Linked DNA regions of Homo sapiens. The protein of the gene in region 1 purifies or fractionates together with the protein of each later gene. This does not show direct contact. Each region holds a gene or a part of one and is shown on either strand. Other genes may lie near its edges. The genes, in order: RALB, HCN1, XPO5, ARMC1, SLC25A3, MMUT and DNAJC17.

Region 1 (4,285 bases):
TGGAGTCTGTCCCTTCTGATGTTCAGATGTGTTCGGAGTTTCTTCCTTCTGGTGGGTTCGTGGTCTCGCTGGCTCAGGAGTGAAGCTGCAGACCTTCGCGGTGAGTGTTACAGCTCTTAAGGTAGCGCGTCTGGAGTTGTTCGTTCCTCCCGGTGGGCTCGTGGTCTTGCTGGGCTCGGGAGTGAAGCTGCAGATCTTCGCGGTGAGTGTTACAGCTCATAAAAGCAGCGTGGACCCAAAGAGTGAGCAGTAGCAAGATTTATTGCAAAGAGTGAAAGAACAAAGCTTCCACAGCGTAGAAAGGGACCCCAGCGAGTTGCCAATGCTGGCTCGGGCAGCCTGCTTTTATTCTCTTATCTGGCCCCACCCACATCCTGCTGATTGGTAGAGCCGAATGGCCTGTTTTGTCAGGGCGCTGATTGGTGCGTTTACAATCCCTGAGCTAGATACAAAGGTTCTCCACGTCCCCATCAGATTAGTTAGATACAGAGTTTCCACACACAGGTTCTCCAGGGCCCCACCAGAGCAGCTAGATACAGAGTGTCAATTGGTGCATTCACAAACCTTGAGCTAAACACAGGGTGCTGATTGGTGTATTTACAATCCCTGAGCTAGACGTAAAGACTCTCCACGTCCTCACCAGAGCAGCTAGATACAGAGTGTCGATTGGTGCACTCACAAACCTTGAGCTAAACACAGGGTGCTGATTGGTGTATTTACAATCCACGAGCTAGATATAAAGACTCTCCACGTCCCCACCAGACTCAGGAGCCCAGCTGGCTTCACCTAGTGGATCCCGCACCGGGGCTGCAGGTGGAGCTGCCTGCCAGTCCTGCGCCATGCACTTGCATTCCTCAGCCCTTGGGTGGTCGATGGGACTGGGCGCCGTGGAGCAGGGGGTGGCGCTCGTCGGGGAGGCTCGGGCCGCACAGGAGCCCATGGAGTGGGTGGGAGGCTCAGGCATGGTGGGCTGCAGGTCCCAAGCCCTGCCCCGTGGGAAGGCAGCCAAGGCCCGGCGAGAAATCGAGCGCAGTGCCGGTGGGCCAGCACTGCTGGGGGACTCAGTACACCCTCCGCAGCCACTGGCCTGGCTGCTAAGTCCCTCATTGCCCGGGGCCAGCAGGGCTGGCTGGCTGCTCCGAGTGCGGGGCCCACCAAGCCCACGCCCACCCGGAACTCCAGCTGGCCCGCAAGTGCCGCACACAGCCCCGGTTCCTGCTCGTGCCTCTCCCTCCACACCTCCCTGCAAGCCGAGGGAGTGGGCTCCGGCCTTGGCCAGCCCAGAAAGGGGTTCCCGCAGTGCAGTGGGGGGACTGAAGGGCTCCTCAAATGCCACCAAAGTGGGAGCCCAGGCAGGGGAGGTGCCTAGAGCAAGCGAGGGCTCTGAGGATTTCCAGCATGCTGTCACCTCTCACTAGTAGTGACTTCAGTAGCTAATAAATGGGGGATAGTGAAGGAGCAGATTTTAAGAGGGAAGAATCAAGAATTCTATTTTGGGAATAAGTTGAGAATCTTGTGGCAGCCCAGTGGGCAGGGGCAGCAGCAAGGCTGTGAGCCTGGGGCCAGGAGAGCGGTCAGGGCTGCATCCTCAGGTTCGTAAGTTGTCTGTACAGCCACTGGGCTGTATGTGGTGCAGATGAGGAGGGAGCAAGACTGAGCTCCGAGAAGTGCTGACATCTAGATGGGGAGGAGGAATGCCTGGCAAGTGGCGCCGAGAAAGGGCCCAGAGAGCCACCCGGGAAGCACTCAGCCTGTGGGAGAATGTGGGCTGTGGAAGCCAGGAGGGATGGCCTCAGGAGGGGGACGCTGGAAGGGGCCCTATACAGGCCTGCTGCGGGCCTTCCCTTTCCAGGCAGCGTTTTGTCACTCTTGCTACTTGCTCATTTTAAAGAGGAGGAGGGCATGGGAAGGAAGAAAGAAGAGTTTTTATTGGAGCTAGCTACGTGGAGTTTGTGGGTGATCTTGATCTCACAAATTTCTGTGAGCTTATATTGGGAGGAAGTTGGATTGGAATGGTTTCCGTAAATAGTGAGGGAAGGAAACAAAGGCTTTTGCTACACAGTGTGGGGTCTGTGGGTCAGGAACATGATTAGAGACTAGGTTAGTGGTGCCAAATCTTGGGCTCCACTCCAGACCTACTGAATCAGAATATGCGTTTTCACAAGATTCCCAGGTAAACTATGCATTAAAGTTTGAGAAGCATTAGCACAGATAATTCCTATAGAGGAATTGTGTCATTAGCTAGAAGGATATATGGGGGTCAAAGGCACACACGCATGTGTGAATCTTTAGGGTGAAGATTCAATAGAACGTGTCTACATGCTGTTGGGGATGATCCTGTAGCAAAGTAAAGACTGATTGATGCTGCAGGAAGAAGGGTAGTGGTAGGAATTAAGTTCTTGGGCATGGTGGTGGTGGAGGGCTTGGCCTTTGCTAAGAGCAGGAATGTGTACTCCATGAGGCTGGAGACAAGGAGAAGAAGGGCGTGGAAGGTTTGTAGATTTGTTGAAGGAGCTCTGAGGGAGTTAGGGTTTGATGGCTTGGTGTTCTCTGGGACAAATGAGGTTAGGTTATCTGTCAAGAGTAAGCAGAGGGAGGGCACAGGGGAGAGTCACAGCGAGATTACTAGGAAGTGTGGGGGAATGCCCATTCGTGGTTTGTGATCATAAGTGCATTGAGAGTGGAGTGCTGGGAGGCTGCTTTCTTGAGTTTCTTTCCCTCGACAGCAGCATTTGCATGCTGGGTGCAGGTGCTGAAAACAGTGAGTGAGATGGAGGGGAAGGGAGCAGGGAGATGAGGTATCTGCAAGAGGGCTTTTCTCATGTCAGGCTTTGGGATCTAAGCTGGTGAAGGGAGGCAGTGCAGCCCAGAGGGTCTTGTTATGCAGAGAGAGAGTGCTGGAGGCCAATGCTTGCAGGTGTCAAGAGGGCAGAGAATTGTGTGTGGGGGTGGTATTTGAACAAGTGAGCAAGAAGGATGGAGGCTGAGGCTAGAGGGTTAGAGGAGATAACTGTTTCTGGTGACGGTGAAGTTCAGGTAATGACCATGATAATGTTAGATAGAAGGAAAGAAAGGGTTTTCGGAGAAGAGAGGATCAAGGACTTGAGAGGGGCCGAGCTTGGCTGGGACATCCACATGCACAGATGTCATTGGGGAGGACGACAGGAGTTGGGTAGAATGGAAGTCTGCAGACCAGAAGCAGATGTCCTCAATAAATGAGGGAAGTGACCAGGAAGTCTGTAGCTGATAGTAACAAGGTGAAGGACAGGCTATTATGGCTGGAAAGGCCAGGCCTCAAAGGTATGGGGGCTTTTGTAAGACGGATGGGGCTAACAGAGGTACTGAAGTGCAGGTGACATTGGGGAGGGAGGAAGGACACATATCTGGTCTGTCTGGCCCTGAAGCACATGGCATGGGAGGAGAAATAGCATCTGCTTGATGTGGTGTCCCCAGGGCACACCCAGGTCTCAGAGCTAGAAGGTAGAGGAACATTCTTAGAAGAGGTGGAGGCTCTCGAAGGGTTTGCTGGTGTGCCTGAGGTTGCAGGGACCAGGTGGGTTAGCCATTTCAGGAGATGGATGCAGTTCTGTTGGGTTGAGAGCCCTAGTCATAGGAAAGAGTGGGGACACCTGCACTTCTGGTGGTGACTGTTCAGGACAGATGTTCAGCAGTGTGCTCCCCTTAAGAGGAGGGTGGTCCTGTTCTAGCACCGTAGTTCCCAAACGTGGCTGGGGAGGTGGCAGCTTCCTTGTGTGATCCTCTCAGCCTTCACATACTGACACAGCAGGGAAGAGAAGGCAAGACTGTTTCTGTTAGAGCCGTTTCGGGAGTTGCTGGGGAGATTTAGGACAGGGACATCCTGAAATGCCCATTGGTTATGCCTCTAAGGCAAATTACGCTGTGTTTTGGGTGATGAAGAAAGAAGGGTGTGAAGGGCTTCTGTTGATGAAAATCTGCCTGTGCTTGTTTCCAGGTGGAGTATGCCTTTGGTACGCGTTTTCCACGTGTCCCTCTCCACTGCCCTGAGACGTAGGCAGGGCAGATATTGTCAGTGAGTGGGAGTGACTTGCCTAATCCTCTAGTGAGTCAGTGGCTGAAGGAGGACTCAAAGCCAGGCCCCTTCATTCCTCAGGACAAGGGGGACTGCGTCTGAGCAAAAAGTATCTTGCCTTATCTCTTTCTTATGGACTGGCAGCTTTTCCTACTTTACCATATATTTGGCTCTGAGGCCAGTTTCTTTCTCAAGACTTTCTAGAGTATTAGAGTGATATTTATTTATTTATTT
Region 2 (3,252 bases), on another chromosome or scaffold:
CACAGACCCTTCCACTGGGAAGGTGTGAGAGGTCTGTCCCACCTAAGTTATGGCCCAGATAGCCTGGGGTGACTTAGAAAATTCTGCTCATTGCTCTTAGAATGTTTAATGGGGGCCAAGAACTGGAATAAATTCTTTGTAAAATTTAGCTCATTTAATCTTCACAACCACCCTGTAAAGTAGAAACTATTCCAATCTCCATTTTCCGGTCATGAAAGCAGATGTAATATTGAGAGGTGAAGCCAGCTGGACTTCCTGGGTCGAGTGGGGACTTGGAGAACTTTTCTGTCTTACAAGAGGATTGTAAAATGCACCAATCAGCACTCTGTAGCTAGGATTGTAAAACGCACCAATCAGCGTTCTGTAGCTAAGATTGTAAAACGCACCAATCAGCATTCTGCAGCTAGCAAGAGGTTTGTAAAATGCACCAATTAGCACTCTGTAGCTAGGAATGTAAAACACACCAATCAGTGCTCTGTAGTTAGCAAGAGGATTGTAAAATGCACCAAACTGCGCTCTGTAAAATGCACCAATCAGTGCTCTGTAAAATGCACCAATCAGCAGGAGTCTAAAAGTAGCCAATCGCAGGGAGGATTGAAAAAAGGCACTCTGATAGGACAAAAATGGAACATGGGAGGGGACAAATAAGGGAATAAAAGCTGGCCACCCCCAAGCCAGCAGAGGCATCCCACTGGGGTTTGCTTCCACCTGTGGAAGCTTTGTTTTCACTCTTACTGCTCCTTACTCTTTGGGTCTGTGCCATTTTTAAGAGTTGTAACACCGCAAAGGTCCGTGGCTCCATTCTTGAAGTCAGTGAGACCATGAACCCACTGGAAGGAACCAACTCCGGACACAATATGACTATATAATTCTACCATGGGTAGAATAAGCAAGTAGAGCAAGACATAAGCAGTAGAGCCAGTTTTTGTAGTCAGGCTTTCTAAACACTGCAGGTGTATAGATATAGCTGATGAAGAGAAGCTCTTTGCAAAATATTGACCACATTCATTTATTTTTATAATGTCAATGTATTATTGATAGCATTAAAAATGTTACAGAAGGCAATGGACACATTGTACTGATGTGATATTAAGAAACATTGCTAGCTATGGCACCAAAATTTATGTGACATAAGGAAATTATAATACCTAACACATATTAGTTTTCTCTTCCCTGGTTCTAACTAGCAAGTGCCAGGAGGCAGGCTGGGTTAGACAGCGTGACCAAGAGTAAACTTTGGATGGTCCAGGATAAAATTATAACATAGGTGGTTTGTCGTTGCTTGTGTTTATTTAATGTTCTCTCGCTTTCCTTGTCTAGCCAAGATCCCATGCTATGTTGACTTGTCATCTCCAGAAATGTCTTCACACTTGGAAGTTCCCTTAAAAAGCCCTTAAAATTTACCTCCTCTAGGACTTACTAGTTCCAATTTTTTCAATATTAATACACATATGAATCATCTGGGGATCTTGCCCAAAAGCGGACTTCTGTAGGTACAGGGTAAGGCCAAGGACTCTGCACTTCTTGTAATTATACTTCTGGGTGATACTGACGCTGCAGTTCCATGCACCACACTTTCCACAGTGAGGCACGCAAGAACATTTAGAACTGCACATTTTAAACAGAATTGTAATATGTTAGGTTGGTAATAGATGTTAGAAGAGTTAGGCAAACAAGATTTAATTTTGAATGCTTGGAAACTAAGACCTTGAACAAATATGAGAAAGAAATGAGAATACATTTGGAAAACTCTTTTTGAATCTTTCAAATTTCTTTGGGTTATGTTCTTTCTTCCTTCAAAAGTAAATCTTTCCTTTCTCAGGAGTTTTCCTCACAAATTTAACAGGAAATAAAAACCTTTCAAGAAAGTCTCTTTGCCTCTACACATCTGAATATTCTCTGTAGAAAACGATGCAACCTGTTTTTTTGCAAAATTCCGTTATTTAAAAAAAAAAGTCTGAATAACTCTACGTTACCTGAATTCAATTATATAATCTATTGGAAACATAAAGTGGTCCTCTTTTGAAGAATTATTATATTTACTAATTTATTCAGATTTCTTCAATTGAATGAATCAATAGTATTCTCTGCTCATATGGTATTACTGAAACAACTACATAGAAAAAAATAGCAGGGCCGGGTGCGGTGGCTCAGGCCTGTAATCCTAGCACTTCTGGAGGGTGAGGCGGGCGGATCACTTGAGGTTAGGGGTTCGAGACCGGCCTGGCCAACATGGTAAAACCCTGTCTCTACTAAAAATTACAAAAATTTAGCTAGCCATGGTGGCGGGCACCTGTAATCCCAGCTACTCTGGAGGCTGATGCAGGAGAATTGCTTAAACCTGGGAGGCTGATGTTGCAGTGGGCCAAGATCCTGCCATTGCACTCCCACCTGGGTGACAGAGCCAGACTCCATCTTAAAAAAAAAAAAAAAAAAAGATGTTTCCCTTTGGGAGTAAATGGCCATTGATGTTACATTAGAAATATAATAGCTCCAAAGAATGTTCACCTTTGCCACTCTTTGGAGCGTGTGTGATATCTCCAATAGAAATTAAAGAACTGGCTTCACTTTTTTGTTTGTTTGGGTTTTTCTTGAGAAAGGGTTTTGCTCTGTCCCCCAAGCTGGAGTGCAGTGGAACGAACAGGGCTCACTGCAGCCTTGACCTCCTAAGTTCAAGCGATCCTCCTGCCTTAACTTTCTGAGTAACTAGGACTACAGGAATACACCACCTATAGTCGGGTTTTCTAAACACTGCAGGTATGTAAGTATATACTGGTCAATTAAAAAAATTTTTTTTCCTTGTAGAGACCAGGTCTTGACATGCTGCCCTGGTTGGTCTCCAATTCCTGGCCTCAAGCATTCCTCCCACTTTGGCCTCCCAAAGTGCTAGGATTACAGGCATGAGCCACCACGCCTGGCCTGAGAACTTGCTTTATTTTAGCCAAAATTATTTTATCACTTCTTTCCCTTCTCACAGGTTCTAGCTCTTATCTTCTTGTACCCCTTCCCTGCCGCAATATATTATCTTACGCAAAGCAAGTAAACTTTCAGTTTCCTATTCCCATTACTCTATTTAGCAAACCTAGGACCTTCCTTAGGACCCAGCATCCTCACAAGGCAGGGTGGGGTTGTAAATAGCCCCCAGTTTTTGCTGTGTCATAAATTATTTTATTCCTTGTTACATTAGCAAAACAGACATTTCAATGTGAATCCTCCCCGTTGATAAGCTTAAATTAAGAATATAAAGTACAA
Region 3 (4,285 bases), on another chromosome or scaffold:
CTTCTTGCCCTATGATTTCCATCACTTTCACGTTTCTCTAGCTGCAGAAGAACCTTGTGGTTTTAAAAAACATCACTATGGGGCTGGGTGTGGTGGTTCACACTTGTAATGCTAGCACTTTGGGAGACTGAAGCAGGCTCAGCTGTCCGAGACCAGCCTGGGCAACATGGCAAAACCCCATCTCTATTAATAAAAACATCACGATAGAAATAAGCCTCTTCTTGACTAAATGTTTAACCCTCTCAGTACAAGTCCTACTTCTTTTCAGAGATCTCTTTCCTCCTTTAGAAATCAAAAGAAAATATTATTTATTTATTTATTTATTTTGAGATGGAAGTCTCACTCTGTCGCCCAGGCTGGAGTGCAGTGGCGTGATCTTAGCTCACTGCAATCTCCGCCTCCCGGGTTCAAGCGATTCTCCTGCCTCAGCCTCTCGAGTAGCTGGGATTACAGGCATGTGCCACCATGCCCAGCTAATTTTTGTATTTTTAGTAGAGACAGGGTTTCATCATGTTGGCCAGGCTGGTCTGAAACTCCTGACCTCAAGTGATTGACCCACCTTGGCCTCCCAAAGTGCTGGGATTACAGGTGTGAGCCACCACACCCCGCCAAAATATTGTCTATTTCCACAGACATGTCCACAATGACAACTTTATCAGACACTCCAGCCCTCCAATTTGTCAACATTAACTTAAAATCTTTGGTTCTCAGGCTTCAGGTCTTGGGTGTCTATTCCCAGGAGAGTTTCACTGCGACATGAATAATTTGGTTTGCCCCGTTGAGACTGCTTTTACTCCTTGGAGAAGGGGCCAAAAAGTACTGAAACAGAGCTCTAACAATGTAATTTAAACATCCTGTGAGAGGCCAGGTGTGGTGGCTCACTCCTGGAGTCCCAGCACTTTGGGAGGCCGAGGTGGACTGATCACTTGCGGCCAGGAGTTCGAGACCAGCCTGGCTAACATGGCGAAGCCCTGTCTCTACTAAAAATACAAAAATTAGCCAGGAGTGGTGGTGCACACCTGTAGTCCCAGCTACTTGGGTGGCTGAGGCAGAAGAATCGCTTAAGCCTGGGAGGCGGAGGTTGCAGTGAGCCAAGATTGCACCACTGCACTCCCAGCCTGGGTGACAAAGTGAGACTCTGTCTCAAAAAAACAAACAAACAAAAAAAAAACCAATCCTGTGAGATACAAAAAGCACTCTTTGGCCAATAACTGAATTATATAAAAAAACCTATCTTTTCATTTAGAGACCATCCCTGAGTCATCAAATATCTATATCTAGTAACTGATAAGCCTATACTGGCCTACTTCCACTTGAATATATTAACTCATGTGATCTAAAACAGTGATTCTGAATGTTTAATGTGTATATAAACCACTGGGCATCTAGTTAAAATGCAGATTCTGATTTAGTATGTCTGGGGTGGGGCCTTGATTCTGCCTTTGAAATAAGCTCTCAGGTGATGCTAATGCTACTGGTCTTAGGACTCAGCTTTGAGAACCAAGGATCTAGCAAACTCAGATGAAAAATTTATAATTCCTTTGTTTAGCATGTTCAGCCAGCGGTTGTTTGGTTCATCTGAGCTCAGACTCAGTATTGATAAATTCAGATTAGCTCATATGAATACCACCTAGACAAGCATCATTATAGAAGGCAACTGCCCTGCTCCCAATGAGCAATTCCTTTACTAAAAAATTTAGACCAAATAAAACTTACAAGTAAAAATAGGGATGAAGTATAAAGAAATGGAAGAACAACAAAGAGGAGGCTCAAAATGGGAAAAGCCCTTTTGGGATTATCCCCTTGGGTTCACATGGAAATTAAGATTTATGCAAGTGAGAGCTGATGTTATTTTTTTTAAAACTGAGACACCCTCTAGAAAGAAATAAGACTTAAATCAATCCCTCATTAATACCACTAAGATATGAAGACATGTAAACAGACTAAACTTTTGAAATTTTTAAGGTAAAGTAGAAAACAACAGAGAAAAGCCATTATTCTGACTCACCTTATAAGCGCAAGCAAATTGTCAAGAAGTTTCAGAATCTGCTCTGTGCAGGGGTTACGGAAGATTGGATTTCCACTGGATGTATAACCCACCACAAATCCCCCAGCTTTGGCCTCTTCTAGGTCAGTGGGCCAGCAAGTTCGTTTCACCACACCCAGAATGCTGTATACACAAAAGCTCATCTATAGAAAAATAAGAATGACAGATAAATATTAAAAGGAAAAAAAAAAAAAGACCAAATACTGTTAGATATATTCAAGGTTCTGGCAAAAGTGACACAGAGGCCAGAGAGAATGAAATAATCCTCTGCTCCCCGGCAATCCCCCATCCCTTCCTTTAAGGTGAAGTCCAAGAGGGATCCTCTCACTGCCATTTTCAGGGCCAGTGGTAGGCTCTGGAAACTTCCCTTGCAGTAAGCTGTCTTTCTAGGAGCTGCAGTGACCCACCCACAGGACCCTGATGAGAAGGTGGCTTAGATACGATCCAAAACAAAGTGTTTAAAATGCCATCACTTCATCTTCTTTGAGTTGACCCTTATTGGGCCTTGACAGCTAGTGTCCTAATCCCCCCTCACGGTACTCTGAATCAACCTACTACTTGCCAGGTTAATTAATGGGACTTGTGCCATAATGGAGCCAGGAACAATGCTTATTTAAATAGCAAAGCACTGAAAAATCTCAGGTTTGCAAGTTAAGCCATCACTTAAGACTTTACATGCCAGAGAGCAATGGCAGGGAGGACTCACCCTGCTGACCAAGTTCTGACCTACTTCCTCATTACACCTTCAGTCTTCAGAGCTATTTAGAGATCCTTAAAGCCAAAATAATGACTTCATAGAAAAGACCATCTGCTCTGCTGTGGGAACTAACTCAAGAATTCAAGACTAAAGAAGAAAAGAAAGGAGAAGCTTAGGGAAGTGGAGACTCCCACGTTTCTCACCAGTATAGAAAAAACAAATCTATGAGAAACTTGACAAAAGACAACACCCTACTCCTACCCATGGCCAATGCCACTTCCCATTCCCAGGAAAGTCTTACTCGTGCACGGTTTAAGCCACACGGATCCTCCAGGCCTGGGTCACAGCTCTTCTGATCTGTACCCACATACGCAATGAAAGCATCAACATCTGACAGCACTCTGAAGGTTGGAGGGGGAAAAACAAGTTACATCATGACTTTAAACAAGGACAGTTTCTTCCACAGGAGTTAACAGGCTATCATTATTTGGCCCTTAAGAGCAGTTTTTATAGTGAGAGGAGTATAATCATACTAATTGTCAGTTGTCATTTGAAGGTTTAAATTTCCCTTCCCACTCCCAAATATTATTAGTAACAATTTAAGAATTAAACAAGAATATAATCTTCAAAATATAAAGAAAATAATTTCTCTACTGTGTGAGCACAGATAAGTGTCTGTGTGGTTGTATGGCCCTTCCTAGCTGTTCTCATTTTTCTAAATGTGCTGGTGCTGCAATGCAGACACCACAGGAGTCTCACTCTGTGCCCTCCCCACCCACAATCTAATTGAACCAGAGATTAAATTACAAAAGACTGCTTTTAGAGAACTTCAGATATCATGGATAATGCCATCACACTTCAATATCCTTAACCCCTACCCCACCCTGGGCCTAGCTCTTAAACCAAAATGGGTGCTTGAGTATAGTAAGAGTCAGGGCAAGGGATCTCCTTTACCTGTGCATGTCTTGAGAAAGCCAGATGCTGGCCACTGGTGCCATCAGCTCCTCTAGGAACACCTTCTGACGCTCGTAGTTCTTAAATTGGTTGCTAATGAGAACCAGGGCTTCCATGAGGGCACACTTCTCCATTTGTGTCAGGAGTAGCTCATTGGAGAGGAGTTGCTTCACATGGTTATAAAGCATGTCAAAATTGGGCTACAGATCAAAAAGAAAAAAAGCCAGAGGTGGTAAAGGTCTGATTTTCAAGGAGAGGTGGCTTACTCAAGGAAGAAAGAAGAAAACCAAAGCAGTCCCAGGAAAGTCAGGCCTATAAGGTTATTATTTGGTAATTCTGTTATATGTCTTTATTTTGCCTAAATAAGCAAGGCAATTTAGGCGGAAGATAGCTCTTGTCTTGAGTATTTGGATAACTGCACTTTCCCATACTACAACTGTGAAAAGATCAGCTTGTTTTATATATATATATAGATATATATGTATATCTATATATATATGGAGATAACTGCTGTGCATTCAGAGAAGAAATTTCTGGATAATTTGTAATCTGGAGTAATGTTAAATTTCTTATAACCCCATGCCCCA
Region 4 (3,500 bases), on another chromosome or scaffold:
TGCAGTGAGCTGAGATTGCGCCATTGCACTCCAGCCTGGGCGACAGGGCGAGATCCCGTCACACACACAAAAAAATTTTAATTTTGTCTATATTTTTAGTTGTTTAATTCTAGAGGCTAAATCTGGTCCCTGTTAATCCATCTGGACTGCAGCTGGAAGTTCCCCTGAAGTTACCTTGCACAGAGAGAAGTTATATAACTTTACATATTTAGGGGTAGCAGTTGGTAGATTACCACTTACCTCTTTAGCAATGCCAGGTAGGTTATATTAGATTATTCACAGCTTTTTTCTTTTTCTTTTCTTTTTTTTTTTTTTTTTTTGAGACAGAGTCTTGCTCTGTCCCCCAGGCTGGAGTGCAGTGTCGTGATCTCGGCTTACTGCAACCTTTGCCTCCCAGGTTCAAATGATTCTCCTGCCTCAGCCTCCCCTGTAGCTGGGACTACAGGTGCCCGCCACCATGCCCATCTAATTTTTGTGTTTTTAGTAGAGACGGGGTTTCACCATATTGGCCAGGCTGGTCTCGAACTCCTGACCTTGTGATCCACCCGCCTTGGCCTCCCAAAGTGTTGGGATTACAGGCGTTGAGCCATGGCGCCTGGCCCACAGCTTTTTCTAGTTGTGTTTAGGTGCTTAGGCTCAGGATATGGGGTTTAGTAAATAAGCCTTCCATATGCATATTGTCAGACCCAAATCAGTCCACAGCTATCTTACTGGAAGTGGGGTCACAAGGCAATTTCTAGAAAGCAAGTTCTGATAAAGGTAAATTGATTCACTGGAAGATCTTAAGATATATAAAATATCTCCAATACCATGTGTTTAATTTTAGTGAATAAGAATAATATAGTTTCTTTTTAAAGCTAGCACAAATCAAGTAATAAAACCCAGCAAAGCACACACAAAAATATAGGCTAGCCAGGTGTGGTGGCACATGCCTGTAATCTCAGCTATATGGGAGGCTAAGGCAGGAAGATTGCTAGAGCCCAAGAGTTCAAGACCAGCCTAGTCAACATAGCGAGATTCCGTCTCAAAAAAAAAAAAAAAAAAGAGCAGAAACCAAACAAACAAATATATAGGCCAATATATAGTAAAAACATGATTACCAAGTCCAAAATGAAATATTAGCAAGTTAATTCTAGTACTGTACTATCATGTTAACTTTTTTTGGTGACATAGCCTGGTACTAGTGATAAGTTTATTTCATCGATTCTCTCATTTGTTTCTGACAGCACAGAGAGATGTATATCTTCTTTCTTTCTTTATTTTTTTTGAGACAGAGTCTCACTCTGTCGCCCAGGCTGGAGATCAGTGTGACACGATCTTGGCTCACTGCAACGTCCACCTCCCAGGTTCAAGCAATTCTCCTGCCTCAGCCTCCCAAGTAGCTGGGATTAAAGATGCCCACCACCATGCCCGGCCAATTTTTTTGTATTTTTATAGAGACGGGGTTTCACTATATTGGCCAGTCTGGTTTTGAACTCCTGATCTCAAGTGATCTGCCTGCCTTGCCCTCCCAAAGTGCTAGGTTATAATAGAAGGGGAAGTTGAGTTTAGAATGGTCAAATAACTTAACTGTTTACTCTACCTATGTAACTTTAGCTTAGTCAACATTTTTTGGACTAGGTAGTGTGACTTCAGAATTGAACTCTTTTTCGAGACAGAGTTGCTCTTTTGCCCAGGCTGGAGTGAGGTGGCGTGATCTCAGCTCACTGCAACCTCCACCCCCTGGGTTCAAGTAATTCTCGTGCCTCAGCCTCCCAAGTAGCTGGGATTACAGGCACCCACCACCACGCCCCGCTAATTTTTTTGTATTTTTAGTAGAGACAGGGTTTTGCCATGTTGGCCAGGCTGGTCTTGAACTCCTGACCTCAGGTGATCCACCTGCCTCGGCCTCACAAAGTGCTAGGATTACAAGTGTGAGCCACCGCGCCTGGCCCAGAATCGAACTTTTAATCACAATATTATAATTTCCTAGAAACAATCTAGTTTTATCCTGGAGTTGTAAATATGATTTAACATAGTGAAATATTTTAGTATAATATCAGTAAGTCAATAATTTGATAATTTGCTATTGATATAGCTGTAAATATAGAAAATCCAGGAGAATGATCTGAAATTTCTTAAAAATATTTTAAAAATCCAGTGACATTATTAAATATATGGAAATCAGTTACTTCTTAAAAGGAGAAAAGTAGTTTTACTCTCCCAAACAAAACAAACAGCTAGGAAGAGTGCAGGGGTATTTTTTCTTTTTTTCTTTTTGTTTTTTTAAACTTAATGACCAGTGTGATAGTAGCAAGGGTATTCTTAATAAGAAAATACAAGACTTAATAAAAAAAATTAAAGGTCTTCAGTATTATAAGAAGACTGGAATAAATGGAATGAAATGCCTGTTTCTGAAAGTTTGTAAGGATGTTAGTTCTTCCTAAATTTGTGGACTTAAAATAATGCCAATCAGTCTGATGATTTTGGAACTTTATTTCCTGATCTGAAAGTTCACATGGTAGAATGTACTAATTTTTACAATAAAAAGGAGCACCTAATGTTAGGCATTATTTTAGATACCAGGGATACAGCGATGACCAAAAAGCAAAACTTTTTGCTCTCTTGGAGCTAGCATAGTTGGAGGAGGCAGGCAATAAGCTTGCTAAAAAAGTGTGTTAATTTATGTTAAAATAAAGATAAATTAGACTTATGAATCTCGTTTCTCACTGTTGCATGTGGTTGGCATTTAGTACCAGACTCTACCTGTGGTAAATCAGGCAAGTTGTTTTTCAACTTTTCACTTTCCTCACATTTAAAATAAGGGATCAGATTAATAGTATCCTAACTTATATATATTGTGTGAGCTTTACTTCACTTTCAAGTTTACCTGGTGTTGAATATGTGGAAGAGATAAACATGGTGCTATTTGGCACCAGTCCTCTAAGGGGCTTCACCAAATGCAGGCCCCTGCAGAGCAGGGTCCAGACACAGTGCACTAGATGAGCCCACTGTGGGCCTGTGCTGTGCCACAGACTGACGTGTCCCACGTCTCCCTGAGTAGTGTTGAAATGCAGAAGTAGGGAGATGAGCAATGGTGTGAGCAGTTGTTTTGAAGGATGTGGAAATAAGTTTGAAAACTGGATATAGTCTACAGATTTGGCACGTGGGTCAGTTGCAGATTGACCCCTCAGAAATATAAATCAAAACTTGGTCTCAATACAGAAATCAGAAAATGTAGAGAGTGTGATTTGGTGTGTGGGCCAGAGGTGGAGGGAGCTATGAGGAGAAAATGCAATTACTTTTTCCATTTTCACTTTGGATCTTGTATTGAGATGACCACTTGATGGTCAAGTGGATATGTCTGACAGACAAATAAGAAAGTCATATTGGAGTTAGTAATGTTAGTGATGGCTAAAGTGATGAGAATAGTCTTCTGAGGTTTGAAGCAGAAAGAAAATCAGTTTAGGAACTGGACTTTGGAGTTAAGGTGAGACAAAGCTGGAATAATCAGTGGGAAA
Region 5 (4,285 bases), on another chromosome or scaffold:
CACAAATAAAACCTATTATAACTCTTAGGAAATAAAACTTGAATCCTGATTGGCAGAACTGCCTCAGTAAGGGCTGGCTGAACTGCATACCCAAAATGTTTTAGATCTACGGTCCACTTTCACGTTGGCTGGACTAATGCGTTTCTACTGCTCCTCTTACACGTTGACTGACTTTCCTCTCAGGAAGAGGTAGAGACTATGTTCCTTTTTTCCTCAATCTGGGACTTGGTTTCTGAGACATCACTGTTGTAACCAAGAGCATGGTAAAAGTGATGTTATGTGACATTGAAGGATAAGTCCTAAAAAGCCAACTCTGCCAAGCTCTCCTGGAGCCCCAAAATACCACCTAAGTCCAGCTGCCCTGAAGCCACCATGCTAGAGATTTTCGGGAAAGACTATACCACTAATAGTGAAAAGCACAAAGAGCATCCTTTCAGCTCAGAAGTGAAAAGCTTCATGAGACTCAGAACCAGAAGAGTCTGATACTCCCGAGTTCTTCACCCACAGAAAAGCTTATCATACACCATTGATCTTTGGATGCTTTGCTAACATAGCAAGAAATAATATACAGTTGATACTGCTAAGCACCACAGCCACCACTTGGTTGGGTTCAGAAGACATCCTACTTTACCTTTTTAAAGTTTGGTCCAAATTTGTACCTACAACTTTTCCTTTTTTCCTGCAGCACAGGTAAAATGTTGGAACCTTTAACAAGTTCAGGCAATGATGATATAAAGAAGTTAACATGCAACTAGCTGCACTGGCTTCTAAATTGAGTTCACTGACCTTACCATGAGTTTGTAGTAACATTTCTCTCCAATCTCTGAAAAAGTTTTTCTCTCCAGGCCATCTGTACGCTTTACGTAGGGACTGTTAACCAACCCACGTATTACACATAAGGACTCTAGGTAAAATCTAGTGTTTGAAAAACAGCATGTTATATATTACACTAGGTTTTTCGTTTTTTTTCCAGTGGTGGGCTGTCATTACAAAAGATTGAACTTTTATACACTTCCTAATCAAACTTAAGGGGAATCTAAACACAAAAACTAATTCACTTTCTAGGAGCTCTTTAAAAATGGGCTTAAACCTACAATCCAATCTCGTATCTAAGTATGATGGAATGCTTTTTCCCCAGTGGCATTCATATAGTTCAGCTGTCAAGCAGTACCTTTCTTAAAATACCAGACTGAAAATAGTTCAATTTTCTGTAAAAAGTCAGAGCCGGGCACGGTGGCTCATGCCTATAATCCCAGCAGTTTGGGAGGCTGAGGCGGGCGGATCACCTGAGGTTGGAAGTTCGAGACCAGCCTGACCAACACAGGGAAACCCCGTCTCTACTAAAAATACAAAATTAGCTGGGCGTGGTGGCACATGCCTGAAATCCCAGCTACTTGGGAGGCTGAGGCAGAACAATCGCTTGAACCTGGGAGGCAGAGGTTGCCGTGAGGCGAGATCGCGACACTACACTCGTCTGGGCAACAAGAGTGAAACTCCGTCTCAAAAAAAAAAAAAGTCAGATCTGTGTAAAGAGAATTAGTGTACCTGAAAATTGTTTTCAGCTGTCAATCACTTTGGTCCTTTACTGTCATTCTAAGAATCAGCCTAATTTGGTTTACCTTGTCTTACAAATAAGGATTAGCAAACTCACCAACATAAAAAAGGTGTAGTACATGCTGCAAAAATGTAAGTATACACTGACATTTACTTGCCAAAATAACCACAAATGACTACACATATTTAACTATAATTAAATCAAGTTTTTAGAAATTTAAAGTCTGCTTCCCTAGAAATACAGGAACTTTGTGTGATAAAACTTGAGACATATGACAATTTCTGAATAGCAACTGGAATATTCAACCAACAATGGTCATGGTCAGTTTTGTATTTTTTCCTTAACTTATATACTTCATTCTTTCCAACTATTTTAAAGCTAAATCTTTTTTAAAAAAGTTTTAAAAATAAGTCACAGGCAAATCATGAAGAGTTGGGTTTATTTCAACAGTAAATCTGAAACTCTTGCCTTAAGCAAGAGTACTACAGTAATTATATCAGGAATAGACAATTTCCTACACTGTCAAATATATAAAAGTTCCTTTTGCACTTTCTTCAACACTGATCAACAAGCAGATTCAGTCCACATTTGCTTTGATCTAACTACTGAGTTAACCCAAGCTTCTTCTTCAGAGACTCTGGCATCTCGGGTGGAGGAGGGCGAGGAAGTCTGAAGTAGACCTTCACGGAGTCATAGATAAACCACTGTAGTGCAGTCAGGGTACCAATCATGATGATACGGGCAAACAGTCCCTTCCATACACCTGGTTCAAACAGGAAAAGCAAATGAAAAAAATGCAACATATCCAAAACTGTTGTTCTTTCTTTCAAGAAAAAAACATCATCCTACCTTTAAATCCAAGTCTCTTGAGGACCAGAGAAGCACTGCTACCTTTTTCTTTATTCAACACAGATACCACAGAATCAGCAGGGTGAGAAACAATTGCACAAAAGACTCCAGCTGAAAAAAGATAAAGGATCCCATACAGTGCCAGTTAAAAACAAAACTTCACAGAGCCAATAATCATTTTTATGATTTTAAAATAATATTTTTCTAGTTCTAAAATAAAAATCAGACTCAGGGTGACACGGGTACAGTTATCAAGCTGTCTATCCTATGTAAAACGGAACAATCTTTTAAAGTTTTTCAGATTTTATTCAACACTTTCTGTATAAAATTCTTAATAAACAACAACAAAAAAATGGTGCAACAGTAAGATCAATACATTCCCAAGCCTAATAATGACATCCCATGAAACAGCCCTTTTAGGAACTAGTTAGCAAGTATTTATGAATCCTAAAAAGCATATAAAATGTTATGGGAAGATAAAACTGCTTTATAGGCCAGGCACATCACCTGAGGTCAGGAGTTTGAGACCAGACTCATCAACATGGTGAAACCCCATCTTTACAAAAATCAGGCCAGGCGCGGTGGCTCACGCCTGTAATCCCAGCACTTTGGGAGGCCAAGGCAGGCAGATCACCTGGGGCCAGGAGTTTGAGACCAGCCTGGCCAACATAGTGAAACCGTCTCTACTAAAAATACTAAAAATTAGCCGGGCGTAGTGGCAGACGCCTGCAATCCCAGCTACTCAGGAGGCTGAGACAGGAGAATCGCTTGAACCCAGGAGGCGGAGGCTGCAGTGAGCCAAGATTGCACCACTGCACTCCAGCCTGGGCAACAAGGGTAAAACTCCATCTCAAAAAAAAACAAAAAACAAAAACAAAAATCAGCCGGGCATGGCGGTGCATGCCCGTCCCAGCTACTTGGGAGGCTGCGGCAGAAGAATCACTTGAACCCAGGAGGAGGAGGTTGCAGTGAGCTATTATCATGCCACTGCACTCCAGCCTGGGCAACAGAGCGAGACTATGCCTCAGGGAAACCAAAAAAACAAAAACACTGCTTTATAACCTTTGGAGTATTTTTCCCTCTCAAAAAACGCCAATAATGGAAATGATTATTTGTTCATAATTTCAGACAAGTGTGTTCTAAGTAATTCGTACCTATGTAACCTGCTACAAATGTTACAACCAGCTGCTCTGGCTTTGAACATTCACTGCGGGGCTTAGGAACCACAAACTTGTACAGTGCTTCAACAGTACGTTCAAAGCAGGCGAACTTCATCATGGTGTATGGTATCTGTCTCATCCAGAGAGGAGCAACCCCCTTGTAGAATCTAGGAAATCAAGAGACTTGTTTTACACAGTTGCATACACTCATCTATCAGAGACTGTCATTATTAACAGAAATGTCCGCACACGAGTCGAGTCCTGATAGTAACAAATGGCAGCATAAATGCATGTCATTTCTATCAGAACGTTAGACTAACATGCAGGTATATTTCTCTTACATGCCAATGACTCAAGCACCTTTGACTATACAACCAAAAAAGTTGCTGGATGTTTCTTTGACTACTGGAACCACAAGAAACAAGAAGTTTACAAGTGGAACTCAGTTCAAGATTCATCCACAAAGGTGGATCTAAGGAAGCATGTTGTGGTCATGGAAATTCTTAACTGTGAATAGATCACAAGGATACTAACAAGCCCTCCCTAAAAGTTAATAGTAAATGTTTAGGCCAAACATCAAGTCATTTGTAGACCGACAAATGGTCCTTACTCTAGGGAAAAAAAAAAAACTCAGTCCAGGGCTCAAACCATGTATTAACTTATCTTTACCTCTCAAGTTTATGTTCTACATACAGGTAAATAGACATTAAATGTTATAATA
Region 6 (3,884 bases), on another chromosome or scaffold:
AAAGCAATTACAACAAAAGCAAAAATTGACAAATGAGATATAATTAAACTAAAAAGCATCTGCACTGAAAAGGATACTATCAACACAGTAAACAGATAACCTACAGAATGGGAGAAAACTTTTGCAAACTGTGAATCTGACAAAGGTCTAATACCTGCATCTATAAAAAACTTAAACAAATTTACAAAAAAACATTAAAAAGCAGGCAAAAGACATGAACAGACACTTTCCAAAAAAGACATACATGTGGCCAACAATCGTATTTTTAAAAAGCTCCAAATCACTGATTGTTAGAGAAATGCAAATAAAAACCCCAATGAGACACCATTTCACACCAGTCAGAATGGCTATTATTAAAAAGTCAAAAAATAACAGATGCTAGCAAGGTTGTGGAGAAAATGGAACGTTTATACAGTGTTGGTGAGAGTGTAAATTAGTTCAACCATTGTAGACGACAGTGTGGTGATTCCGCACAGACCTCAAAACAGAAATACCTCCCAACCCAGCAATCCCATTACCGTACATATACCCAAATGAACAGAAATCTTTCTATTATAAAAACATGCTTGCAGCTGGGCGTGGTGGTTCATGCCTGTAATTCTAGCACTTTGGGAGGCAGAGGCGGGTGGATCACTTGAGGTCATGAGTTCGAGACCAGCCTGGCCAACATGGTGAAACCCATCTCTACTAAAAATACAAAAATTGGCCAGGTATGGTGGCACGTGCCTGTAGTACCAGATACTCATATGGCTGAGGCAGAAGACTCACTTGAACCCAGGAGGTGGAGGTTGTAGTGAGCCAAGATCATACCACTGCACTCCAGCATGGATGAAAGAGCGAGACTCTGTTTCAAAAAAAAAAAAAAAAATACACATTCACATGTATGTTCATTGTAGCACTATTCACCACAGCAAAGACATGGAATCAACCTAAATGCCCATCAGTGATAGACTGGATAAAGAAAATGTGATACACACACACTAAAGAATACTATGCAGCCAGAAAAAAAGAATGAGATCGTGTCCTTTGCAGGAACATGGATGAAGCTGGAAGCCATTACCCTTAGCAAACTAATACAGGAACAGAAAACCAAATACCACATGTTCTTTCTTATAATTGGGAGCTAAATTATGAGAACACATGGACACAAACAAGGCAAAGAGGGAAACAACACACACTGGGGCCTATCAGAGGGTAGAGGAGCAGGAGGAGGGAGGTCAGAAAAACAACTAATGGGTACTAGGCTTAACAACACAAGTTTACCTATATAACAAATCTACACATGTACCCCTGAACTTAAAATAAAAGTTAAAAAAACAAACAAAAAATAATATTTTTTTGAATACTAAAAGAATGTTTCCTCAAATGTTGGGGGGTCTTCCTAATGTAATGCCTACAGATATCAGAAACTTTTAAATTTAATATTCATCGTTACATTATTTCCCTCAGAGAACTTTGTTCTGATTATTTACATTTTTCATCAAATTTTCTGAAAACAATAACTCAATCCCTAATTTTTAGTGTTTGCTGATTTTTATGTTGTGAATATTCCAACCATAGCCAATTTCACCCTATTAACATGACATTACTAAATGCAAAGCAGAAAAAAAGACACACAATAGCCACACAATTATACAGTATCACTACCATATAGAAAAAATAGATGGAAATAACCTAAAAAGCAGATAATAAAATATATAAATATAGGGAGTGATAAGTTTTTAGTACTTATCACTTTTGGTTTTAGGCAATAGTAAAAGGTCTACTCTCTAGAATCTACAAGGAACTTAAACAAATGAGACACCATTTCACACCATGAAAAACAACTGGCTTTTGAAATTCTTAAAAATTTAATTCCTGGAGGCCTCATTATTCCTTAGTGGTTCTAGCAATCCTGCCTACATATCTGTAAGTAGTCCCTCCATTAAATTTTCTTCAAAATCCTAGCTGAGATTTGGTTTCTCTTGAGACCCTGACATTGCCCTAGTTAAGGTCTTCGTTGTTTCTCATTGTTTTTCTTCACCGTACTGCTTGAATCTAGTTGCAGCTCTCCTCCATCCACTTCAGAGAGTGATTTTACTAGAAAGTGAATGGCACTGTGCTTCTGAAACAAACATAAGTTTTAAGGATCAACAAATATAAGTTTCTGGGTTTCTTGTAACAAGTGAGGTGCCCTCTTTGTCCATATTTTAGTTATAGTAATTTTATACTATAGTTATAGTATAGTATAAAGTTATAGTAATTTAGTTATAGTAATTTTCATACTATGTACGAAATAGTAATAATTTACATAGTAAATTTCATACGATGTAATTACAAGTAAGTAAATCTCTCTTTGTTAGGAGATTGTAACCTCGAGGACAAAATTGTATCCTACTCAACTCAGAGCCTAGCATCTGGTAGATGATCAATACATATGTAGTAGAGAAGGCTTTTCATATAAAATTATTACAATGTACTTTCTAGTCAAATTTTTTTGTATTATCATTCTATGGAAAATGTCAGTGTAATTTATCTCCTGCAAACTATTTTCCTGTCTAAGTCTAATATTCTGTGACTAAGTAACATATTAGTAGAGAGTTAAAAAAAGACAACAAAAATAAACGAAAATAACCTTACTTATGAATTGAGTTTATATTGCTATTTGATTTCTTTTTCAAAACACTTTTCACCAATCCCATGTGGGCTATCTTTCCCACAAAATATTAGTCAAATCTCAATAAAGAGTACAATAAGATCTTTGAAAGTAATCTTCATAGTTCCAGAGGCATAATCAGTTTTAGTTCTGAACTGACACTTTTAAAAGTCTGAAAGATTAATTATATTTTATTTTTATTTCTATCATAATTAATTGGACTATATGTGTTATGGTTAATACTCCATGTCAACTTGGTTGAAGGATACAAAGTATTGACCCTGAGTGTGTCTGTGAGGGTGTTGTCAAAGGAGATTAACATTTGAATCAGTGGGCTAGGAAAGGGCTAGACCCACCCTTAATCTGGGTGGGCACCATCTAATCAGCTGCCAGGCGTGGCTAGAATATAAGCAGGCAAAAAAATGTGAATAGAGAGACTGATCTAACCTCCAAGCCTACATCTTTCTCCCGTGGTGGATGCTTCCTGCCCTTGAACATTGGACTCCAAATACTTCAGTTTGGGAACTCGGACTGGCTCTCCTTGCTCCTCAGCCTGCAGAAGACCTATTGTGGGACCTTGTGATCATGTGAGTTAACACTTAATAAACTCCCCCTTACATATATATATATAAAGGCTGAGGGAGAGAAGGCAGGGTGGCAGGAGTGGAGACCATGGGCATTTGAGCTACTTTCTCATGTAACTTACTTGTGCCTTCAGGACCTGCTCAAGCTGGACCACATATATACCACTTCCATTTGATGATGGAATGCTGCTGTGCAAGACCCACTTTATAGTTAGATGGGTCAGAAAGCACCCAGTTCATGATAGGCAGTTCTGGTCGCATGGTGACTTGATGACCCATAGTCAAACATTCAGTTTCCACCAAAGTCCAGTAACAGGCCAAGAGCTGTCTCTCAAAAGGAGAGTAGTTATCTGCAGAAGATGGCAGGCCCTTCCTCCAAAATCTTAGAGGCCTCTGCTGTGACTCACCTATGGGGGCCTGCCAAAGGCTCCAAACATCATTGCTATCTGCCACTGACACCTCAAGCACCATTGGATCTGCTGGGTCATATGGCCCAAGTGGCAGAGTAGCTTGCACAGCAGCCTGGACCTGTTGCAGAGCCTTCTCCTATTCTGGACCCCACTCAAAACTGGCAGTCTTTTGGGTCACTCGATAAATAGGCCAGAGTAACACAGAGTAACACATTCCAAATGAGGAATGTGTTGCTTCCAAAAATCCAAATAGGC
Region 7 (4,285 bases), on another chromosome or scaffold:
CAACGGAGCAGGCTGGCGTGGGTAAAGTAATGAGAGCAGCCTCCTGCCAGCCTGCTGAGGGGCTGTGGACACACCAGACAGGCCCTGGGCCACTGCAGAGAAGGGAAGAACCAGGTTGCTAGATCTTGCCCCCAAAGCAATCTGTTCCACCAAGGTGGGGACAGGTGTGGCCAGGAGCCCCACAGCCCTAGCCTTTGTATCCAGGCCAAAAGACACCAGGGCCATGGTTGCAGGTTGGGGGTTACACACAAGCTGGAAGGTCTACGCTTCACCCAGGCAGGGCACCCAGACTCTGGGCAGGCACCACCCCGTGTCAGCAGGGTAGCCAGAGTTCCTTCTTTTTTTTTTTTTTTTTTTGAGATGAAGTCTTGCTCTGTTGCCCAGGCTAGAGTGCAATGGCACGATCTCGGCTCACTGCAACCTCTGCCTCCCTGGTTCAAGCGATTCTCCTGCCTCAGCCTCCTGAGTAGCTGGGATTACAGGTGCGCACCATCATGCCCAGCTGATTTTTGTGTTTTTGTAGAGACGGGATTTCACTATGTTGGTCAGGCTAGTCTTCAACTCCTGACCTCAGGTGATCCGCCCCCCTCGGCCTCCCAAAGTGCTGGGATTAACGGCATGAGCCACTGCGCCCAGCCTGCCAGGGTTACTTCAAGAGGAGATATTGCCTCTTGACAGTCGGTCCCTTTCTGGGGCAGCCAGAGACACATCCAGAAAACTGAAGTGCTGGGAAGGAAGTGGCTGTCCTAGTCACCTGCCCCTTCTCTGCAGCACTGGGTCGTCTAAGCTCCAAATGCTTCACACACCACAACCAAGCAACCTGAGGGCCAGGAAGATCCCTTTGGTGAGAAGGAGAGTCCCAACAGGAGGCCAGATATGGAGAGAAAGCAAGGTCTAAGAATACAGTGTGGGTGGGGCCTCTCTGGCCCTCAGAGAGGAAAAGGGTTCAACGTGAAATCACAGCCCCTCTTGCCTGGGTTGGTGGACCTGCCAAGCTCACTCTAGGCCCCAAGATCTGAATTTGGAAGGAAAGAGCCTGAGAGGAGCCCAGGTAGGAAGAGCTCCGAGACCTGAGCGCCCAGCCGGGCGAGGCCTGACTCCTCACCTTTGACAGTCCTGAGTGGCTGCGGCCCACGGCATCCTGGGGCTGTCCCTCCAACCAGGAAATCTTCAGAGGGTTATCCACCAGGCCAACTTCATTCTGGACAGCCAGCTCCTGCCAAACACAGCATCTAGTCCTGTCCCATCCGTTGAGTCAGCTATAAAGAGGCTCTCTCTACCCCCACAGAGAGAACGGAACCAGCGTTCTAGCCCTCTAAGCAGAGATGCCAACCTCAGCAGCCTTCAAGTGATGGGTGTTAACGCTTTGGCCTTTCCTGCGGGAGAGGGGTTGGGGGAGCTTTCTGATGTGGGGAGGCGAGGAGCACAAAGGGTGGGAAGGCAGTGCTGGGGCTCACAGCCCCAAGGGGTGCAGGTGGAGGGTGTGAAGGCACCAGCAGGGAGCAGAGTCAAGTCTGTGCTCTCCTTTCTCCCCAGAGCACCCCCCATCCATCCCTTCACACACGGTGCCTCTATTTCCAGGAGTCAGGGGCCCCTGGGAAGAGCCTTGGCTCTAAGCTGGCCTGGAGATTCCCTAGGAGTGCAGACCACCTAACTCAGAGGGCCCACAGAATTGGGTCCCTGCCCTAGAATGACAGGGCCACGAGGGGCCCCCAAGCCTCATGCAGCACTCACCGCTGCCTTGACGGTTGCAAACTCCACCACAGCAGTGCCTGGCTTCTTACTGGAAAGCACCAGGTTGAGAACCTCACCATACTGTGGGGACAAAGGGGTCCTAATAAGCATGACTTGGCCTTCAGGATGGCCCAGGTCATGCCAGAGACAAGCCTGGGCTACCTTGAGGCCCATGGGGCATTTTCAGTTGGGAGATAACTTCTTGCCCCACCTACTTATCTTAGTGAAGTGAGATCAGAGATAGGAAAGAAAGAAATTTTTTTCTAGGAACACAGAGCAGCAAAGGAATGATGAGCAAAGCCCTGGTGACTTAGACTGACACATTTCATTGCATAGCGTCCTTGCTAGTTGAACGTGGTGAAAAGGACGGGGCTTTCGTGCCAGATACGCACCTCGTCCCTCCCAACCCACTCAACCAAGCTCTTTGCTTCTAAGGGTAAGGGTTAGACCGAGGTAGCAAAGGACAGCGGGCTGGAAGGGGGCACATGGCCACACAAGTGAAAGCAAGGCTGTAGCCTGGGGAGAAGTCTCTAAGACGTCCCATGGTCTATGAGACAGAAAAAAAAAGCAAGTAGATATGTTAAGGGAAGTTCAGGCATTGAGAGCAGAGACCTAGGGTGTGGACTGAGACGTGGACTGAGATGATAGGAAAGAGTGGACGTCAACAGGGCCGACCTTCTGCAAAAGCCGTAGGAGGACGTCTTTGGAGTAGCCACCTTTTGACTCATCCTCCTTCTTGCACTTCCATTTTAGCTGAAAAGAGAGCCTCATGAAACACTGATTCTTGGCTGAACAGTACCTCACCCCACGACTGAGCTTGACAGTCTGAGCAGACATCCTCCCACCCTCCAAGCCTCCAAGGCTCCTGCAATCTGGGGAGTGCCACCAGAAACATTTTCCCCTTGGGAACTTGAAGGCAGGATGGCCTGCTCACCCCAGGGACGCTTCCCGCCCAGAAGACCCTCTCCTGAGAGGGCTTCTAGAGAATCCTCTGCCCTGTGATCAGGGCTAAAAGCAGCCTTTCGTGGCAAGCTCTGATCTCCGGGCGGCTGGAGCATGGAGGGAGGTGGTAATGGTGCGGGCTCCACGCAGATCCAGCAGCCCCACCAGAAACCCTCGAGCCACAGGAAGCATCTATTCCTGCTGAGGGGAGGCGGTGTGAGTGTGAGGTGGCCCACAGATCCTGCCCAGGCTCACCTTTAGTTTGGGGGTTCCTTGGCCTTCAGTATTTTCTGCCTTTCCTAGAAATATTGGGAAAAGAAGAAAAGTAGAATATGAGGGAGTCAGAGATTCTCCCAAAGGAAATGCAGCCCAGAGCAAGAAGGGTCTGGAAAGGGTCACTCCTGACCAAGGGCAATGCCTGCCCAGCTCTGGTGAGGGCCTGGTGGGGAAAGCAGATGCCCATCCCCAGAGAAGCTGCCACCCCAGGGGTGGTCTACCCAGCTGCCTCCTGAAGGCCACTTGTCAGCACTCTCTGAATGGAGAGCTAGGAACACTTTCTAGGGACAGGAGGCAGAGAGACAGACCATGAGGTTCTACGGGCACAAAGTGTCCCAGGGCCCCTCCCCGTGGTGATCTGTCCCAAAACAAGGCCACCTCTGCTTGGGACAAAGCCAAATGTGGCCAGGAGATCTCAGGCAGAGTAAAAAGCAAATAGGCCCCAGAGAACTGGGAGGAAGACGGGATAAGTGGCATGTGTCAGAGTAAGGTACCATAGGGTGACCCCAGGGTTCCAGCAGGTAGAAGCCTCCACAGCAGCTCCACCGAACAGCCAGTGTGGCCGCTCTGAGCAATCTGGAGCTACCTTGGAGGGGAGATAGGCGGGGTGATAGACCTGCACCTCTCAACCTCTGGTCACGCTCCTGGCGTATCTGCTCCCGGATGAGCCTCTGCTGTTCCTCCAGCTGCCGGGAACCCTCTTCTCTCAGGCGTTCGATCTGCAGAGCAGGGGGTGGGGGTGACAATTCTGTGCAGGTCCAATTCCAGGCTGGCTCACCTTGTAAAAAGTCCTTGGGAGCTTCCACCTGCAAGCTAGGGCTCAGCAACCTGTGGGTGGGACAAATCACCCAGCTCCCACTGAAGGTGCAAAGAGCATGCCCTCTCTAGCCACGGCGACCACCAGGTCCATCCTCCCCCACCTCCTCCTCCTGCAGGTGGCCTTCTGGCCAGTGTGCCTGAGTGCTCACCTCTTGCTCTAGTGTCCTGGTGCTCCGGCTCTCCTCTTCCTCCTCACTCTCCTGGGCCTGGGCCTGCCGCTCCCGGGCCTCCAGGTCTAGACACAAGGGTTGAATGACCAGACTGCTGGTCTGTTCAGTTTCCATGTGGCCTCGGCCCACCCCAGCTCTGGCTGCCTCCCCAAAGTCTCAATCACGACGAGATCATACAGTAACTCTGCCCCCTCCCTCCATGCCCACGCCCCCGAGTCAATTTCCATTGAGAAAAATCACAGCACAGAAGTATGGGGTCTAGCAGAGTGGCCAGGGGTCTGGAAGAGTTAAAAACAGCTCACACTGACCAAGCTGGTTCTCTCTAGTGAACAGGGTGTGGGTGG

The links.
Region 2: the proteins of RALB (region 1) and HCN1 purify together in Homo sapiens (co-immunoprecipitation; one large-scale study listed by IntAct). This does not show direct contact.
Region 3: the proteins of RALB (region 1) and XPO5 purify together in Homo sapiens (affinity purification with mass spectrometry; 2 studies listed by BioGRID and IntAct, with this or other methods). This does not show direct contact.
Region 4: the proteins of RALB (region 1) and ARMC1 fractionate together in Homo sapiens (co-fractionation; one large-scale study listed by BioGRID). This does not show direct contact.
Region 5: the proteins of RALB (region 1) and SLC25A3 purify together in Homo sapiens (affinity purification with mass spectrometry; one large-scale study listed by BioGRID and IntAct). This does not show direct contact.
Region 6: the proteins of RALB (region 1) and MMUT fractionate together in Homo sapiens (co-fractionation; one large-scale study listed by BioGRID). This does not show direct contact.
Region 7: the proteins of RALB (region 1) and DNAJC17 fractionate together in Homo sapiens (co-fractionation; one large-scale study listed by BioGRID). This does not show direct contact.

What each region holds. Positions count from the first base shown.
Region 1 is NC_000002.12:120,258,903-120,263,187, forward strand, and holds part of RALB (ras-related protein Ral-B), read left to right. Parts: intron 1-4,285. UniProt on the Homo sapiens protein: Multifunctional GTPase involved in a variety of cellular processes including gene expression, cell migration, cell proliferation, oncogenic transformation and membrane trafficking.
Region 2 is NC_000005.10:45,253,955-45,257,206, forward strand, and holds the end of HCN1 (potassium/sodium hyperpolarization-activated cyclic nucleotide-gated channel 1), read right to left. Parts: 3' UTR 994-3,252; downstream 1-993. UniProt on the Homo sapiens protein: Hyperpolarization-activated ion channel that are permeable to sodium and potassium ions. Displays lower selectivity for K(+) over Na(+) ions.
Region 3 is NC_000006.12:43,544,563-43,548,847, forward strand, and holds part of XPO5 (exportin-5), read right to left. Parts: intron 3,899-4,285; coding exon 3,699-3,898; intron 3,146-3,698; coding exon 3,046-3,145; intron 2,892-3,045; exon of another isoform or gene 2,754-2,891; intron 2,191-2,753; coding exon 2,009-2,190; intron 1-2,008. UniProt on the Homo sapiens protein: Mediates the nuclear export of proteins bearing a double-stranded RNA binding domain (dsRBD) and double-stranded RNAs (cargos). XPO5 in the nucleus binds cooperatively to the RNA and to the GTPase Ran in its active GTP-bound form.
Region 4 is NC_000008.11:65,606,678-65,610,177, reverse strand, and holds part of ARMC1 (armadillo repeat-containing protein 1), read left to right. Parts: intron 1-3,500.
Region 5 is NC_000012.12:98,599,401-98,603,685, reverse strand, and holds part of SLC25A3 (solute carrier family 25 member 3 isoform b precursor), read right to left. Parts: intron 4,052-4,285; exon of another isoform or gene 3,802-4,051; intron 3,732-3,801; coding exon 3,559-3,731; intron 2,516-3,558; coding exon 2,405-2,515; intron 2,319-2,404; coding exon 2,158-2,318; 3' UTR 1-2,157. UniProt on the Homo sapiens protein: Inorganic ion transporter that transports phosphate or copper ions across the mitochondrial inner membrane into the matrix compartment. Mediates proton-coupled symport of phosphate ions necessary for mitochondrial oxidative phosphorylation of ADP to ATP.
Region 6 is NC_000006.12:49,435,754-49,439,637, forward strand, and holds part of MMUT (methylmalonyl-CoA mutase, mitochondrial precursor), read right to left. Parts: intron 1-3,884. UniProt on the Homo sapiens protein: Catalyzes the reversible isomerization of methylmalonyl-CoA (MMCoA) (generated from branched-chain amino acid metabolism and degradation of dietary odd chain fatty acids and cholesterol) to succinyl-CoA (3-carboxypropionyl-CoA), a key intermediate of the tricarboxylic acid cycle.
Region 7 is NC_000015.10:40,772,622-40,776,906, forward strand, and holds part of DNAJC17 (dnaJ homolog subfamily C member 17), read right to left. Parts: intron 4,007-4,285; coding exon 3,921-4,006; intron 3,672-3,920; coding exon 3,575-3,671; intron 2,976-3,574; coding exon 2,932-2,975; intron 2,488-2,931; coding exon 2,410-2,487; coding exon of another isoform or gene 2,347-2,409; intron 1,816-2,346; coding exon 1,735-1,815; intron 1,217-1,734; coding exon 1,106-1,216; intron 1-1,105. UniProt on the Homo sapiens protein: May negatively affect PAX8-induced thyroglobulin/TG transcription.